2 separate regions of the Homo sapiens genome follow, and region 2 is linked to region 1. Evidence: fine-mapped expression QTL. Tissue or cell type: gastroesophageal junction. Region 1 holds a variant in brackets; the other region holds the start of a gene. All regions are shown on one strand. Distances are between the middles of the regions.

Region 1 (8,101 bases):
GTAATCCCAGCACCTTGGGAGGCCGAGGCGGGCAGATCACCTGAGGTTGGGAGTTCGAGACCACCCTGACCAACATGGAGAAACCCCGTCTCTACTAAAAATACAAAATTAGCTGGGTGTGGTGGCACATGCCTGTAATCCCAGCTGCTCGGGAGGCTGAAGCAGGAGAATTGCTTGAACCCAGGAGGCGTAGGTTGCGGTGAGCTGGAGATCGTGCCATTGCACTCCAGCCTGGACAACAACAGTGAAACTCCGTCTCAAAAAAAAAAAAAGGTTGAATAATTGTCCATTGTACAGGTGCACTACATTTTATTTATCCATTCATGCCTGGATGGACATTTGGATGTTGTTTCTGCTTTTTGGCTACTTTGTATTTTTGTTTTTTTGAGACGGAGTCTTGCTCTGTTGCCCAGGCTGGAGTGCAATGGTTCGATCTCAGCTCCACTGCAACCTCTGCCTCCCAGGTTCAAGTGATTCTCCCGCCTCAGCCTCCCAAATAGCTGGGATTACGTGCACCCGATATCATGCCTGGCTAATTTTTGTAGAGATGGAGTTTCACCACGTTGACCAAGCTGGTCTTGAACTCCTGACCCCAAGTGATCCACCCGCCTTGGCCTCCCAAAGTGCTGGGATCACAGGTGTGATTTTTGGCTACTTTGAACAGTGCTGTTATCAACATGCGTGTGCAGCCGGGCATGGTGGCTCATGCCTGTAAAGTCCCAACACTTTGGGAGGGTGAGGTGGGCCGATCACTTGAGCCCACGAGTTTGAGGCCAGCCTGGGCAATATGGCGAGACACTGACAAGACAATACAAAAATTAGCCAGGTGTGGTGGTGCGCAGCTGTAGTCCCAGCTACTCGGGAGGCTGTGGCAGGAAAATCTCTTGAACACAAGAGGTCAAAGCCATGACTGCATCACTGCACTCCAGCCTGGGCAACAGAGTGAGACCCTGTCTCAAAAACTAAACAAATAGGCCAGGAGCAGTGGCTGACACCTGTAATCCTAGCACTTTGGGAGGCTGAGACGGGTGGATCACTGGAGGTCAGGAGTTCGAGACCAGCCTGGCCAACATGGTGAAATCCCGTCTCTACTAGAAATACAAAAATTAGCAAGGTGTGGTGCCATGCGCCTGTAATCCCAGCTACTCGGGAGACTGAGGCAGAAGAATCGCTTGAACCCAGGAGGCAGAGGTTGCAGCGAGCCAATATCGCACCACTGCACTCCAGCCTGGAAACAACCCGTGTGTCCCAGAGTCCCAGCTCAGCCCCTCACTTTCTCACTACCTGTTCTTTTTTGTAAATAATCAATGAAAATTAAAACACAGATGTGTGTTTCAAGGAAATCTAGAATGATGGAAACTGTGTGTCTTTATGGAGATCTTTTTTCTATCAGAAGCCAATTATACATCCTTTTATGTTTTGAGGGGATGGGGTCTAAGGTGGGCTGGTGTGGGGGGATCTGGGGTTTGAGGAGAGGAGCTGCTTCCTGCAGTATTCAGCACTGACCTGGATCTCCCGGGCATGGTAGAGGACAACGAGACCCAGCAGGATGGCCGTGGAGAGGCTGATGAGGCATTTGAGTGCGAATGAGTACAGAGACTCCTGGTAAAGAGAGAGGACACAGCCAGATGGACGCTGGAGGCGGTGGGCCGGCGGCCCTCCCATCCCCTTACCCTGGCTCCCGGGCATGGGAGTCAGCTAAATGGGGCTCTTCCCAGTGGCTTCTCCCACTGTACCCTGAATTTCTGCTAGTTCCCCAGTCCTGGGGCTGCTGTGTGTGAAACAGCTTATCAGGGCTGGGCGTGCAGCATGTGCTGTATTCAGGAAGCGGTGCTCTCCTGTCCTTATTCCTGGGGACTGGGCTGACAGCAAGATGTGTCCAGTGCTTCACAGTTTATGAGGCCTGGCCTCACTTGGGCACAGCACTTCACAGTTCACAAGGCCGGACCTCATCCAGCCTCGGCACTTCAGAGTTTACAGGCTGACACAGCCCTGATCTCTCTCCATCCTCACACATTCTAGGTGGCATGAGGGAACCCACAGCCAGGCTTGTAACCTGGACGCACTCACTCTCGGAAGGGGAGGAAGATCTTCTGTTGCTCCCCAGAGCAGGCCCACTCTGGGGAACCCCTGTCCTGGGGGGAAGCCCCCCTCCGCCTTAAGCCAGGGTGCAGCCCCTTGACACCTGGCCAGGGAATGGGCTGGAACCTTCCTTCTCCATGTGTAGCCTCCCTGCTACCTTCCTGGAGGTGGGTATGCAGAAGGCCAGGGAGCCCTCACCTCCGGGAGCCCCCTAACACTCCCTATCTCCCGGGGGGCCCTGCCACCCCCAACCCCATGTCAAGAAAGCTAGGCGGGCTTGGTGGAACCTCCCTGGAGTGCCTGGGGGAGGACCACGCCTACCTTGGTGTACACCCCCCAGGACAGCTCGGTCTCCGTCACCATGACGACGATGCCAAACATGCCGAAAATGAGGGCATAGTCGCTGAGGCGCTTCCGCTTCTCGAAGAGCGCCCGCCGGTGGCCCAGGCGGTGGCCCACATTTGAGGGTTTCCCCGAGGCTCTCTGCCTGCCGGCCTCATCTTCCTCATCATCCTCGTCATCGTCCTGGTCCTGGGGCTGCCCCCGGGGGCTGCCGGGTGAGGGCCGGGCTGGCTCACTCTTGGCCACTACCACCTGGAGGCCCGGGCTGTGCGGGGGTTGTGGGGGGTGGCCGGCCTCAGGGTCCGGAGGGTCTCGTCCCAGGGCGCCCGGCCCGCTGCCCAGCGGCCGCCCCACGCTGCCATTGTAGCTGTGGCTGTTCATGACTACCTGGGTGCAGGGGTTGGGCTCGCTGCAGGCCGCCCGGGGCCCGGCATGGCTCAGCGGCTGGGCTCCTGCACTGACCTGCAAGGGCACAGAGGGACATGGTCACAGCAGGGTCCAGCTTACTGACCAGAAAGGCAAGGACCATCCCGGCCAACCCAGAACGTTCTAAGTTTGGGAGTGGCCCAGAGTGCTGACACGTGGGTTTACCATCCCAGAAACATCTGAGTCAGCCTGAATCCCTCCCCTGCTCAAAGCCCT[G/A]CCATGGCTCCCCAGTGCCATCTCACTGAAAAAATCAACCCCAGAGAGCCGGGCATGGTGGTGCAGCTCTGGTAATTGCAGCTACTTAGGAGGCCAAGGCAGAAGGACCGCTTGAGTTCAGGAGTTCGAAACTGGCCTGGCCAACATGGCGAAAACCAGTCTCTACTAAAAATACAAAAATTAGCCAGGCGTAGTGGTGCATGCCTGTAGTCCCAGCTGCGTGGGAGGCTGAGGCAGAAGAATCGCTTGAACCCAGGAAGCAGAGGCTGTAGTGAGCCAAGATCATGCCATTGCACTCCAGCCTGGGTGGCAGAGTGAGACTACGTCTCAAAAAAAAGAAAAAGAACAAAGAAACTCCAGAGCTGGGCCCAGTGGTGCACACTTGTAATCACAGCTACTCAGAGGCTGAGACTGGAGGATCACTTGAGTCTGGGGGTTTAAATCCAGCCTGGACAACATAACTAGAGCCGATCTCTAAAAAAAACAAAAACAAAAACAAATAAAACACCAAACTCTTCACTATGGCCAAGGGGCCCTCTGTATCTGGTTCCCACCTATCTCGTCCTTCTTACTCTCCCCAGACCCAATTCCTCCAGCCACAATGGTCTCCCAATCACCAGATTCCAACAAGTTCATCCTTCTCTGATACCTTGCACAGGCTGTGCCCTCTGCCTGGAATGCCCCCCTACCAGAGCCCTGCCTGCTGACTTTATGTGTATCCAAGCACCTAGAACAATGCCTAGCAAACAGATGACACTCAGGAAACACTTGCTGAACGCTGGAAGATGAAATCTACCAACGGGCTTGCCTGGGAGGAGAGGGTGGCTAATGGTATGCTTAGAAGGTGGTTTTCATCTGAGCTCATCCTCTTCCAACCTTCAGACTCTTGGATGAGTTAACCTCACCTCACCGTGCCTCCTGCATTTGTAGGCTCCTGCACTGTGGCCTATGGGACATTAGGGACCCTGGCTGTGGCTACAGAGATCCTGAGGCTCCCTCCTGCCTGGGCAGGAGGGGATCCATAATCTCCAAACAGATTCCAAACAGAATCCAAATGGTTTCCAGGAGGGGATCCATGATCTCCAAACAGTGTGGCAATGCAGGCTTTAACTCCAAGATCTAGAATCGATTCTGCAGGGCTTTGTAAGACATAAGACATGCTTGGCTGGGCTCTATGATCTCAGGCTAGCCTGTTTCCCTGCCAGGCTATTTGAAAAGCACCCTGTGTGATTACAGAGCAATGTCCTGTGGCATCATGTGTGAGAGCAGGGACCTCAATGATGGTGACATAGTCATCATGCTCACCAAGGCATTGAGAGGCTGTCTGAGACTCTGGATCCAACTTGTCAGATTCTCCCCTGCCCTGCCCAGCCCAGTATCTCAGACCCTCAAATGCACTCCTTGCCTGCTCTGTAGCCCAGGCTGGAGTGCAGTGGGGCAATCCTAGCTCACTGCAGCCTCGGACTCCTGGGCTCAAGCGATCCTCCCACCTCAGCCTCCCAAGCAGCAAGGACTACAGGTATGCGCCACCACCCCCAGCTAATGATTTATTTTTCCGAGATCAGATGAGATCGGGAGTGTTCAGGGTGGTATGGCCATAGATGATTTATTTTTATTTCTAGTAGAGATCAGGCCTTGCTACATTGCCCAGGCTGGTCTGGAACTCCTGGGCTCCAGTGATCCTTCCTCCTCGTCCTCCCAAAGTGTTGGGATTACAGGCATGAGCCACTGTGCCCGGTCCCAGGCTCCATTCTTTATGTAAATGTTCTCCTGAATCCTAATACTGCCAAGAAGTGGGTCCTGGGATTTGGCCAGTTTTACAGATGGGGAAACTGTGGCATGATGTTGTGAAAGAATCTGCCTGGGCCGGGCACGGTGGCTCACGCCTGGAATCCCAGCACTTTGGGAGGCCAAGGTGGGCAGATCATCTGAGGTCAGGAGTTCGAGACCAGCCTGACCAACATGGTGAAACCCCGTCTCTACTAAAAAGACAAAAAATTAGCTGGGCGTGGTGGCCCATGCCTGTAATCCCACCTACTCAGGAGGTTGAGACAGGAGAATCGCTTGAACCCGGGAGGCGGAGGTTGCAGTGAGCTGAGATCATGCCATTGCACTCCAGCCTGGGCAACAAGAGCAAAACTCCGTCTCAAAAAAAAAATAATAATAATACAAACCTGCCTGAAGACACACCTTCTCCTTGCAGGGAAGATTCCGGACCCGGCTCCTTTGTGAGATTTTCCCAACAAGCTGGGCAGGGGTGGGTGGAGGCCAAGTGTTATCCCCTTTGAAATGGTCACAACAGCATGCACTAGGGGTCCCCCATGTGCCAGGCCTGGGAGAAGGGTTGGGGGCAGCTGTGTGCACAGGCAGGACACTTCCCACCCCCACTGGGGGTGACAGACTAGCAGATCGTCATTCCAGGACACAGCAAGATGAGCCACATTGGCTGGGTGCAGTGGCTCACGCCTGTAATCCCAGCACTTTGGGAGGCTGAGGTGGGCAGATCACTTGAGGTCAGGAGTTTGAGGCCAGCCTGGCCAACATGGCGAAATCCTGTCTCTACTAAAACTACAAAAATTAGCCAGGTGTGGTGGTGGGCACCTGTAATCCCAGCTACTTGGGAGGCTGAGGCAGGAGAATAGCTTGAACTCGGGAGGTGGAGGCTGCAGTGAGCTGAGATCACGCCACTGCACTCCAGCCTGGGCAACAGAGTGAGACTCTGTCTCAAAAAAAAAAAAAAATGAGCTACACTGCTGAGTTGGACATGGGTGACTTTGGCTGCCGCACACATTGCAGGACCACCTATGCCTTTGTCCGGCACCCCCCACACTGTGTCTGTCCCTCACGATGTGTCTCCAGATACTGGTGTCAGCACACAGGAGTGCAAGAATTATTTCTTTGTGGCCGGGCGCGGTAGCTCATGCCTGTAATTCCAGCACTTTGGGAGGCTGAGGCGGGTAGATCACTTGAGGTCAGGAGTTCAAGACCAGCTTGGCCAACATGGCAAAACTGGCTGGGCGTGGTGGCTCACACCTGTAATCCCAGCACTCTGGGAGGCCAAGGTGGGTGGATCACCTGAAGTCAAGAGTTCAAGACCAGCCTGGCCAACATAGTGAAACCCTGTCTCTACTAAAAATACAAAATTAGCCGGGCGTGGTAGTGGGCACCTGTCATCCCAGCTACTTGGGAGGCTGAGGCACAAGAATCACTTGAACCCGGGAAGTGGAGGTTGCAGTGAGCTGAGATCATGCCACTGCATTCCAGCCTGGATAACAGAGTGAGACCCTGTCTCCAAAAAAAAAAAAAAAAAAAAAAAAAAAAAAAAAAAAAAAAAAAAATCATTCCTTCTATGGTCAGGTGACCTCATGAGTCTCAGAACTTGTCCCACCCCTTCCCACCCTCACCCATCACATCAATCAGGCTGTGGCTTCCTGTGACCAGGCACCTCACAGCTTGTAAGGCCTGACCTCCCGCAGGCCCAGCACTTCCCAGTTTATGAGACCTAGCCTCATGTGGCCTAGTACTTCCCAGTTTATCAGGCCTGACCTCCTGCCGGCCCAGCACTTCACAGTCTATAAGGCCTGGCCTTGTGGGCCCAGCATTTGACAGTTTATGAGGCTGACCTTGGCCCTGATCTTTCCGTAACCTCACAAATACTTAGGTGGGCCTTCTGCTCCGAGGCTCAAACCCCTGCCCACTGCCTGAACATCCGCTGGCTACCAGGTGGGGCTGGGAGCTTGCACTAGGGTGCACACAGGAACCCCAGATCCTGCCCTCCTCCAGGGGGCCCAGGAAAACCCAGGCACCCCTTCCACCATCCCCGAGGGTGCAAAACTTCCCCAGCTGGGGATGGGGGGCACAGGGATGAGAAGCGGGTGGCCTGGCAGACAGAACCCAGAGGGGGTGTAGGCCTCCGATGGCCTCTGCAAACGACCTTCCGAAACGCACCAATGAAGATGCAATTTGGGGATGTGACTCAGCCACCCGACGCATGGGCCAAATTCAGCCGTGTGTCTGCCATGTTCCTCCTCGCCTGGCAGCCGCGTCCTAAGGTGCCCTGGGCAGGGAGGGGGTGGGGAGGAGGAGAGAAATGGCAGGTGGCTTCCAAGAGGGTGGAGGGGTGGAGGGGTGGAGGGCTTTCCCGGCACCCACCACATTACTGTGGACCGGGCTCTTACTATGCTTTGAGCCTGAGATCAGGGTGATCACATTTAATCCCTATCACCACCGGTGAGCAAGGTGGCATTCCCGTTCCCATTTTACAGACGGGAGACAGAGCTCAGAGAAGCTCAGCACCTTTTGCCCAAGGTCACCCAGCCAGGAAAGGCAGGGACTAAATTAGTGCCATCCAGGCGTGGCAGGTGGCAGGGTCTGCTTTCTGGGAGGGGAACTGGCCTGGTCCTGCCGTCGAGAAGCCACTAGCTTGGAGCACAGAACTGATGAGTGCCTGGGCCTTCCCCATTCCTGGGTACACATCCCCTCCCCCACTGCAATCTGGGCCTAACACTGGAGTCCCTGGGACCCTCAGGGATTCCCAGAGACCCAGGAGCCCCTGGGAACCCTCAGCCAAGGTTTGGATGCCCATGAAAGGGTATGTTTTTCTGGGTAACAGCCCTGGGTTTGCCAAGTGAGGAATACCACCCTATTAGCTAGGTATATACCTAGTTCCAGCTATTCAAGAGGCCAAGGCAGGAGATCACTTCAGCCCAGGAGCTCGAGACCAGCCTGGACAACTAGCAATATCCCATCTCTAACAAACAACAAACATCCTACGGGGTGTATTTGGGTTGGAAGGTCTTTGATATTGCCTTACTTTTACTACTCTGTCTGGTCATGAGAGCTCCCTTCCCTGAAGCCTGGGGTGCAGGGGATGAGCAGAGACCCACTTCCACACCCTCCCTGGAGACACACACTTCTGGGGGAACCTCGTGTGCCTGGGGGGACCCATGAGAGCTCTTGAGGAGAGGATGAGGGTAGCAGGGAGCAGGGCTGATGGCTCCTTAGATTCCCCACCCAACAGGACATGGGAAGAGAC
Region 2 (8,100 bases), 370 kb before region 1:
TTTGGCAGGCGAATGGTGGGGAATCTTGTGTCCTAAACTTTGGGAAGAAAGTGAAAAGTGGGGCTGGGCGCAGTGACTCACGCCTGTAATCCCAGCACTTTGGGAGGCCGAGGCGGGCGGATCCCCTGAGGTCAGGAGTTCAAGACCAGCCTGGTCAACATGGCAAAACCTCGTCTGTACTAAAAATACAAAAATTAGCCGGGCCTGGTGGTGCGCAGCTGTAATCCCAGCTACTAAGGGAGGCTGAGGCAGGAGAATCGCTTGAACCCAGGAGGCGGAAGTTGAAGTGAGCTGATACCGTGACATTGCACTCCAGTCTGGGCAACAAGAACGAAACTGTGTCTCCAGAAAAAAAAGAAAGCAAAAAGTGGAAACTGCAGGTCTGGAGAGAGGAGAACCAAGGAGAAGGGCTATTTCCTCTCTGGCCACAAGATAAAAAGCTGCCATCCTTCACCATCCGAGAAGCCCCGAAGCTCGGAGGGATTTCCAAAGATTGTTTAATTGATTTTTCTTCTATTTAGATGTAGATCAGTGTCTGGGGCCCAGGAATTCAGACACCCGGCTTTGTGTCCACTCAGCCCCGTGAAGGCTCCTGTCTGAAATGTGCACAAAGCCTGACACACAAGTCTTCAGAAACATGCTGTTTCTTTTTGTCTGGCTCTCCGGGGAGCGGGTGAGCAGGCAGGGCCTCGGGCACGCTCCCATCTGCAGGGTCCCGGGACCCCGTCCCTCCATCCCGTTCACGAAGTGGGCAGGAAAGAAAAAAAAAAAAGGGAAACAGCCAAAACTTTGAGGTCTGAAGTTGGGGATGAGGGGGTGATTAAAAAATGGGGGGTACAGCTGGGGACTGCCACGCTGAGGTTTCAACTTAGATTTTTCTCCAAATCTAGGATTCTGGAATGGGAACAGAGGTTACTTTAAATCAGGCAGCTCATAGGCTAGGATAAACAGGGGTTTGGCTCTGGTCTCTGCCGATCTGATTTATATAACGAGAAAACACTTCCGTCTTTCTCTCTGTGCATTGCTCCCCAGCCTGTCCCTACAAAATACTCCATCTGGAAAAGAAACTAGAAAGGTTTTGCAGACTGGCATCTTCTTCAGGGCACCAGGAATGACAGCCCCCCTCGGCCCCTAATATGCCATCTTTTCCTCCCCCAGCTGCGAGGAGATGACAGCGAGGCTCACTGTACCCCTTCCTACAAGGTCAAGATATGTTCCCCTGCCACCCCACCCCACATATTCCTGCCTGGTCCTTCCTGAACCATGAATTACCTGCCTAAAACATACCAGAGAATTCTCACTTTGGCTGTTCAGAAACCAACCTGAGTCACGATTTGTCTGAGTCAATGGAAAAGATTTTTAAAAAGGAGGGAGATCCTGGCCGGGGGTAGTGGCTCACACCTGTAATCCCAGCACTTTGGGAGGCCGAGGTGGGTGGATCACCTGAAGTCAGGAGTTTGAGACCAGTCTGGCCATCATGGTGAAACCCCATCTCTACTAAAAATAGAAAAAAGTAGCCAGGCGTGGTAGCAGGTGCCTGTAATCCCAGCTACTCTGGAGGCTGAGGCAGGAGAATCGCTTGAACCCAGAAGGCAAGGTTGCAGTGAGCCAAGATCGCGCCACTGCACTCCAGCCTGGGCAACAGAGTGAGATTTCGTCTCAAAAAAAAAAAAAAAAAAAAAAGAGGGAGATCCTAGAGTTGGATAATTCCTAGGTAAAGTAGACGCCAGCACCACATAAACAGCTGTGTCCTGGAAACCAGCTACGTTTATATCCACACCTGGCCCTCCAGACCCAGATCTGTAGCCGCTGGCCAGGGCCTGGGGCACTTCTGAGGCAATGCCACTCCCATTTCTTGGCTGTGTGACCTCGGAGAACTCCCTTCATCCCTCCTCTGGGCCTCAGTTTCCTATTCTGTTAAGTGGGCACAAGAATAACTACACGTACTATGCATGGGTTGTTGGGAGGATTCAGAGCGCTGGGGTACAAACACTCAACAGATGTGTGCTCCGGTGGTTACCATCCAGGAAGAGATGTGGATCCGACATCGTTTTTTAAGAGCTGGCTGGGCGTAGTGGCTCACGCCTGTAATTCCAGCATTTTAAGAGGCTGAGGCAGGAGGATTACTTGAGGTCAGGAGTTCGAGACCAGCCTGGCCAACATGGTGAAACCCCGACTCTACTAAAAATACAAAAATTAGCCGGGCGTGGTGGCAGCCACCTATAATCTCTGCCACTCTGGAGGCTGAGGTGGGAGAATCGCTTAAACCCAGGAGGCGAAGGTTGCAGTGGGCTGAGATTGTGCCATTGCATTCCAGCCTGGGTGACAGAGTAAGATTTCGTCTCAAAAAAAAAAAAAAGTTTTTGTTAAAAGGGGACCTTCTTGGATGCCATAACTTTCTGGGGTGTGCCCAGCTCCAAGCCTGACTCCCACCCTCCGGATCTAAGTTACCTGAACTGCAATCCAACTGGCGTTCACGGTGTGTTCCCCAAAAGGGCCAAATCCTGAAAAAACAGGAAAAGCAATATATTACCCAAGAGTGGCCCTTCCCAGTCTGCCCCTGGCCTGGCCGCTACTCCCACCTGGAGAAGCAAGAAAGGAGCTTCAGGGCGCAGCTGCCAAGGACAACATTGGGGGCCTGGTCCTGAGTTCTGGGAGCACCTGGAGGCCCGTCAGAGCCGCCGTCCTGCACCTGTCCGCTCTGAAGTCAATGAGTCCCTTCCTGTCTTCACCTCCACCTGCCCCTCATGCTCAGCCAGGGGCCAGAGGTATCTTCTGCCTCCGAAAAGGTCCTGATCCTGTCTTCACTTCCTCTGGTCCCCTTGACTCAACCTACAATTATTGTGTCACTGTCCCAAAATGCCCTGAATCGGCACCAAATGAGGAATGAGCCCTCCAGGCTGTCTAGATTTCACCTTGTCACCCTCCTCCCTGCTAGCTCAAACTCCAGGCCCCCTTTCCAAAACACGACAGTCGCCCAAGGCTGTGCTAAGTGATCTTCCTGGCATTAAGCCTGGCCACATCCCCTTTCAGGCAAGGGTGTTTCCTAGGCCCAGTTTCCAGGAGCAGGGACTGAGGCACAGAGAGGTGAAGCTAGCTGCCCAAGGTCACACAGCAAGAAGGTGAAAAAGCTGGGATTCAAATCCAGATCTGGGGCTGGGTGCGGTGGCTCATGCCTGTAATTCCAGCACTTTGGGAGGCCAAGGCGGGCGGATCACCTGAGGTCAGAAGTTTGAGACCAGCCTGGCCAACATGGTGAAACCCCGTTTCTACTAAAAATACAAAAAATTAACCAGATGGGGTGATGCGTGCCCGTAATTCCAGCTACTCAGGAGGCTGAGGCAGGAGAATCGCTTGAACCCAGGAGGCGAAGGTTGCAGTGAGCCGAGATCGCGCCGTTGTGCTCCAGCTTGGGCAACAAGAGCAAAACTCCGTCTCAAAAAAAAAAAAATACGGTCCATCTGGGCCAGTGATCCCACAGGATATGAATGCTATGCAGAGATGCTGTAGCCTGGGATAGCAGGTAGGGGCTGTGGCTCAGGAGGGGACCTCCTAACTCTATCCTTCTGTACAGCCAAAGTTTGAGTCTCAGCTCAGCCCCTTACAAACTGGATGACCTCTGTGAGCCTCAGTTTCCCTTTCTGCAAAATGGAGACAGTAAAGATGTAATCAGCTCATGCAAAAAGTGCTGGAATAAATAACCAGATAAAGGAAGGCTGGAAGGGATGGGGGCAGTGACCCTCCTCCCAATTATACACACCTGTTAAGCAGGTGCCTTGTTTCTTCCTTCTTCCCTGAATCTCCTGGATCAGCCTCAATCTCCCTTCAACAGCCACAAAACACCTGTGTGCACCTTTGCTGGATTTCCCACTCTGACCCCTCCAGACAGCAGGTCAAAATGACCCCCCCACTCCTTGACTCTGAGGCCCCAGCGGAAGTTGGCGCCCCACGTGGCCCCGAGGCGGAGTCTCAGGGAGGAGAAACAGTTGGTTTGGGGGTGGGGGGGAGTCGGTGACAGCAGGGGCCCTGACTCACCAACAAACAGCCCTGGCACAAAACACAAAAAGGTTTCCGCTGAAGACAGTCCCTGGGACAGCTGGGAGAGCCCGAGGTCCCCGGACCCCCACCTGCCCCTGCCTTGGGAGAGTAGCCCCCCAGGAGCGCAGGGCGCGGCGAGCAGTGACTGGGAGGTTCATTTGTCACTGGGACACTTCCTGCCCGCAAATCGGCCTTTGTCCCCTGGGGCCAGGGGTTGGGGGAGCGGTGTGGGGACAGGCTGGACCTCGGAAGGGGCAGGGAGGAAGGGTCCAGTCCAGCCCGCAGGCCAGACAGAGGAGGCAGGTGCCAGGAGGGTCACCATCCCCACCTTGGGAGGAAAGGACGCCAGGGGGGCCTGCGCAGCGCCGGGCTTTTGCCCGGCCCCCCAAGCCCCGCGCCCGACTGCCCTGACTCCCGACCCTGGGACCCCCAAGGCTCCTCCTCCTCCACTTTCCAGGAAGCCTGGGCTGCGCGGGGCTCCCGCGGGTGATGACACCTTCCAAATCTGAGAGGACTTCCAGCACCTGCCCCTCTCGGCCCCGCAGTCCCGGAGCCGCCCCCGCCTCTGCCCCCGGCCGCTGCCGCTACAGCCCCCATCAGCCAGCGTACCCGTCACTACCACCGCCTTCCTCGGCTGCTCCATGGCGGGATCGGGCTGTGCCTCGGACCTGCTTCTGTTGCGACTGGCGCGACAGCTGCTGCCGCTGCAGCCTCTCGGCCGCGCGAGGCCACGCCCCTGTCAAGCCCCCGGCCTCGCCCCCGGTCAGCCGCTCGGCGTGCGCGCCCCCGGGCCCGAGACGCAGCGTGCGCGCCCTGCGCCCCGCCCCCGTCGGCTAGGCCCGGTATTCCCCAGCCTCCGTTTCCCCGTCTGCAAAATGGGAACATCTTATGCCGTAGTGTGTAGCCGCTTGCACGCACTGAGCCAGGTGCTGGGGATGAGCCGGTCCTTTATTCTGCAAGGGTTCATTGAGGGCCTGCCCTATGCATGCATACTGCGCAGAATTAGGGAGGGAAGTCCCCGCGAGCAAGGCCCGTTTTCCAGATAAGGAAACTGAGGCACAGAATGCCACTTCCCCGAGGTCACTCGCCTCAAGGGGTCACAGGAGCAGCATTCAGGCCAGGAAGTTGGCGGGGGTGGGGGAGGACAGAGTAAAAAAGGAAAAACACGACAACCATATTTGTGTGGTGCCAGAAGTTTCTCTGCAGGCCCCCATGGTCCTAGGAGGCTAATGGGGGAGGGCGATTGTACCTGCTGTTCCCTCTGCCGGAACACACCCCGCAGGTACCTGCGAAGCTGGCCTCCTTCAGGCCTCAGCTCCAGTGTTCCAATGTCGCCTCCTCCCAGGGGCCCTCCTCCTGTCCTGGCTGTCACCTCCTCCGAGGGGTGAACTGTCACTTTCTCCTTGTGGCCTTCTCTGGCTATCACCTCCCTGCTATCCTATTACCTCCTCTGAGGGTTCCTTCTGGCCCTCCTTGGCTGAAATGACCTCACTGCTACCCCCCAGTGGTTCCATCTCATTCCCTGGTTCCATCCTCTTCATAGCAATAAAGCTCAGAAATAATTTCCTTTCTCTCTCTTTTTTTTGGAGACAGGGTCTCACTCTGTTACCCAGGCTGGAGTGCAGTGGCAAAATCATAGCTCTGTAACTTTGACCTCCAGGGCTCAACTGATCCTCACATCTCAGCCTCCTGAGTAGCTGGGACTACAGGTGTGTGGCACCACACCCAGCTAATTTTTGTATTTTTGTAGAGATGGGGGTTTCATAGTGTTGCACAGGCTGGTCTCGAACTCCCGAGCTCAAGCAATCCGCACACCTTGGCCTCCCAAAAGTGCTGGGATTACAGGTGTAAACCAGCACACCTGGCCAGAAATCATTTTTAATTTTTTTTAGCTTTTAAGTTTTGGGGTACATGTGCAGGTTTGTTATATAGATAAACTCGTGTCATGGGGTTTGTTGTACAGATTATTTAGTCCCCCAGGTATTATTAAGCAGAAATTATATATGTATTTATTTATTTGAGACGTAGTTTCACTCTTGTCACCCAGGCTGGAGTGCAGTGGTGTGATCTTGGCTCACTGCAACCTCTGCCTCCCGGGTTCAAGCAATTCTCCCACCTCAGCCTCCCAAGTAGCTGGGATTACAGGCGAGTGCCGCCATACCCAGCTAATTTTGTATTTTTAGTAGAGAGGGAGGTTCACCATGTTGGCCAGGCTGGTCTCGAACTCCTGACTTCAGGTGATCCACCCTTTTCAGCTCCCAAAGTGCTGGGATTACAGGCGTGAACCACTGCCTCCGGCCCCCTCCCCAGGTATTATTAAGCAGAAATCATTTAGTATGGTCACAGCCTCTCTGGTTGGCTTCCCGTTTCCTCCGACATAGAGATGAGAACTTCTAGAGGAGGAAGCGTTGTTCTGTTAGAGCTGCGTCTCAACACCCAGCACATCCCCAGGCACATTCTGCCAACATTCATCAGAGACCAGAATTCCTCTAAAAACAGGTAGAAAATGAAAGCTGAGTTTCTGGCCACATCTTCAGAAACAGGACTGGACCTTGGACTTGGGTCACGAATTTTTTTTTTTTTTTTTTTTTTAGACAGGATCTTGTTCTTTTGCCCAGGCTGGAGAGCAATGGAGCGATCACAGCTCACTGCAGCCTTAATCTCCAAGGCTAAAGCAATTCTTCCACCTCAGCCTCCCGAGTAGCTGGGACTACAGGCGCGTGCTGCCATGCCCGGCTAATTTTTATATTTTTTGTAGGGACGAGGTCTTGCTATGTTGCCTGTTTGGGTTGGTCTTGAAATCCTGGGCTCAAGCAATCCTCCTGCCTCAGCCTCCTAAAGTGCTGGGATAACAGGCATGAGCCAGAACTCCTGACTGTGTGGTTCACTGATAGCCCGTTCCACTTTGACTTTGCCATCATTCGCCAAGACACTATGGTTTTTTGTTTGTTTGTTTGAGACAGAGTCTCACTCTGTCGCCCAGGCTGGGGTGCAATAGCACGATCTAGGCTCACTACAACCTCCGGCCCCTGGGTTCAAGCGATTCTCCTGCCTCAGCCTCCTGAATAGCTGGGACTACCAGCACCTGCCACCGTGCCCGGCTAATTTTTGCATTTTTAGTAGGGATGGGGTTTCACCATGTTGGCCAGGCTGGTCTTGAACTCCTGACATCAGGTGATCTGCCTGCCTTGGCCTCCCAAAGTGCTGAGATTACAGACATGAGCCACCGTGCCCAGCTGGTACTATGGTGTTTACTGGCTCCACCCCCGAATTCCTCCAACACCAAGGGCAGAGTTCTCTAGACTGCCCCTGAGCCCTGTTTGGAAGCCCACACCCCAGGTCACACGCTCAGTGGCTATTTTGGTCTTTAGCAGCTTCAGGTAGAATGCAGAACATCAGAGAGCTGTCTGAGCTGGCCAGGGAATGAGGTCCAAGCCAAGAGGGAGAAAAGAGCAGATCAAAACACTAACCTGGCCAGGCGCAGTGGCTCACGCCTGTAATCCCAGCACTTTGGGAGGCCGAGGCAGGCGGATCACTTGAGGTCAGGAATTCGAGACCAGCCTGGCCAACATGGTGAAACCCTGTCTCTACTAAAAATGCAAAAAACTAGCAGTGAGTGGTGGCGCGTGCCTGTAGTCCCAGCTACTGGGGAGGCTGAGCCAGGAGAATCACTTGAACCCAGGAGGCGGAAGTTGCAGTGAGCTGAGATCGTGCCACTGCACTCCAGCCTAAGCGACAGAGCGAGACTCCGTCTCAGAAAAAAACAAAACAAAACAAAAAAACCACTCACCCAAAGGCAGGTTTTATAACCTGAATATGTCATACGTGCCTGGTGTGGAGTATGTGCGTTGCTAGAAGAGGGAAGGCGAGAGGGAAGTGACAGTGGATTTTAGTTTCCTCAATTGCAATGGGAGGAACGAAAACATGTAGAGTCAGCAGTGATGGGGAGAAACTGAGTCATGCCCCACTGCCCCAGTGACTGGCGTAAAGGCTAATGTTCACTCGTAGCCCTAATCATGTTTGGGCCATATTTTTGTTTTTTGAGATATGATCTTGCTTTGT

What was found. PIP is the estimated chance that this variant, and not a neighbour inherited with it, causes the effect.
Region 2: it holds the start of PGPEP1, and the variant in region 1 is fine-mapped to the expression of PGPEP1 in gastroesophageal junction (GTEx, PIP 0.99).

The regions. Positions count from the first base shown.
Region 1 is chr19:17,968,593-17,976,693 of GRCh38, reverse strand. It overlaps KCNN1 (potassium calcium-activated channel subfamily N member 1), which reads right to left. Exons shown (of 10, transcript NM_001386974.1): 2 at 2,404-2,886; 3 at 1,507-1,602. The coding sequence starts at 2,805. It also overlaps the pseudogene RNA5SP468. Among named protein-coding and RNA genes, the nearest start is that of KCNN1, 5.5 kb to the right of the region's middle. The variant G/A (reference allele first, on the strand shown) is at 3,067.
Region 2 is chr19:18,337,263-18,345,362 of GRCh38, reverse strand. It overlaps PGPEP1 (pyroglutamyl-peptidase I), which reads right to left and starts at 4,765. Exons shown (of 5, transcript NM_017712.4): 1 at 4,648-4,765; 2 at 2,452-2,504. The coding sequence starts at 4,681. RefSeq lists enhancers at 1-588, 589-1,428, 4,208-4,895 and a silencer at 4,727-4,916.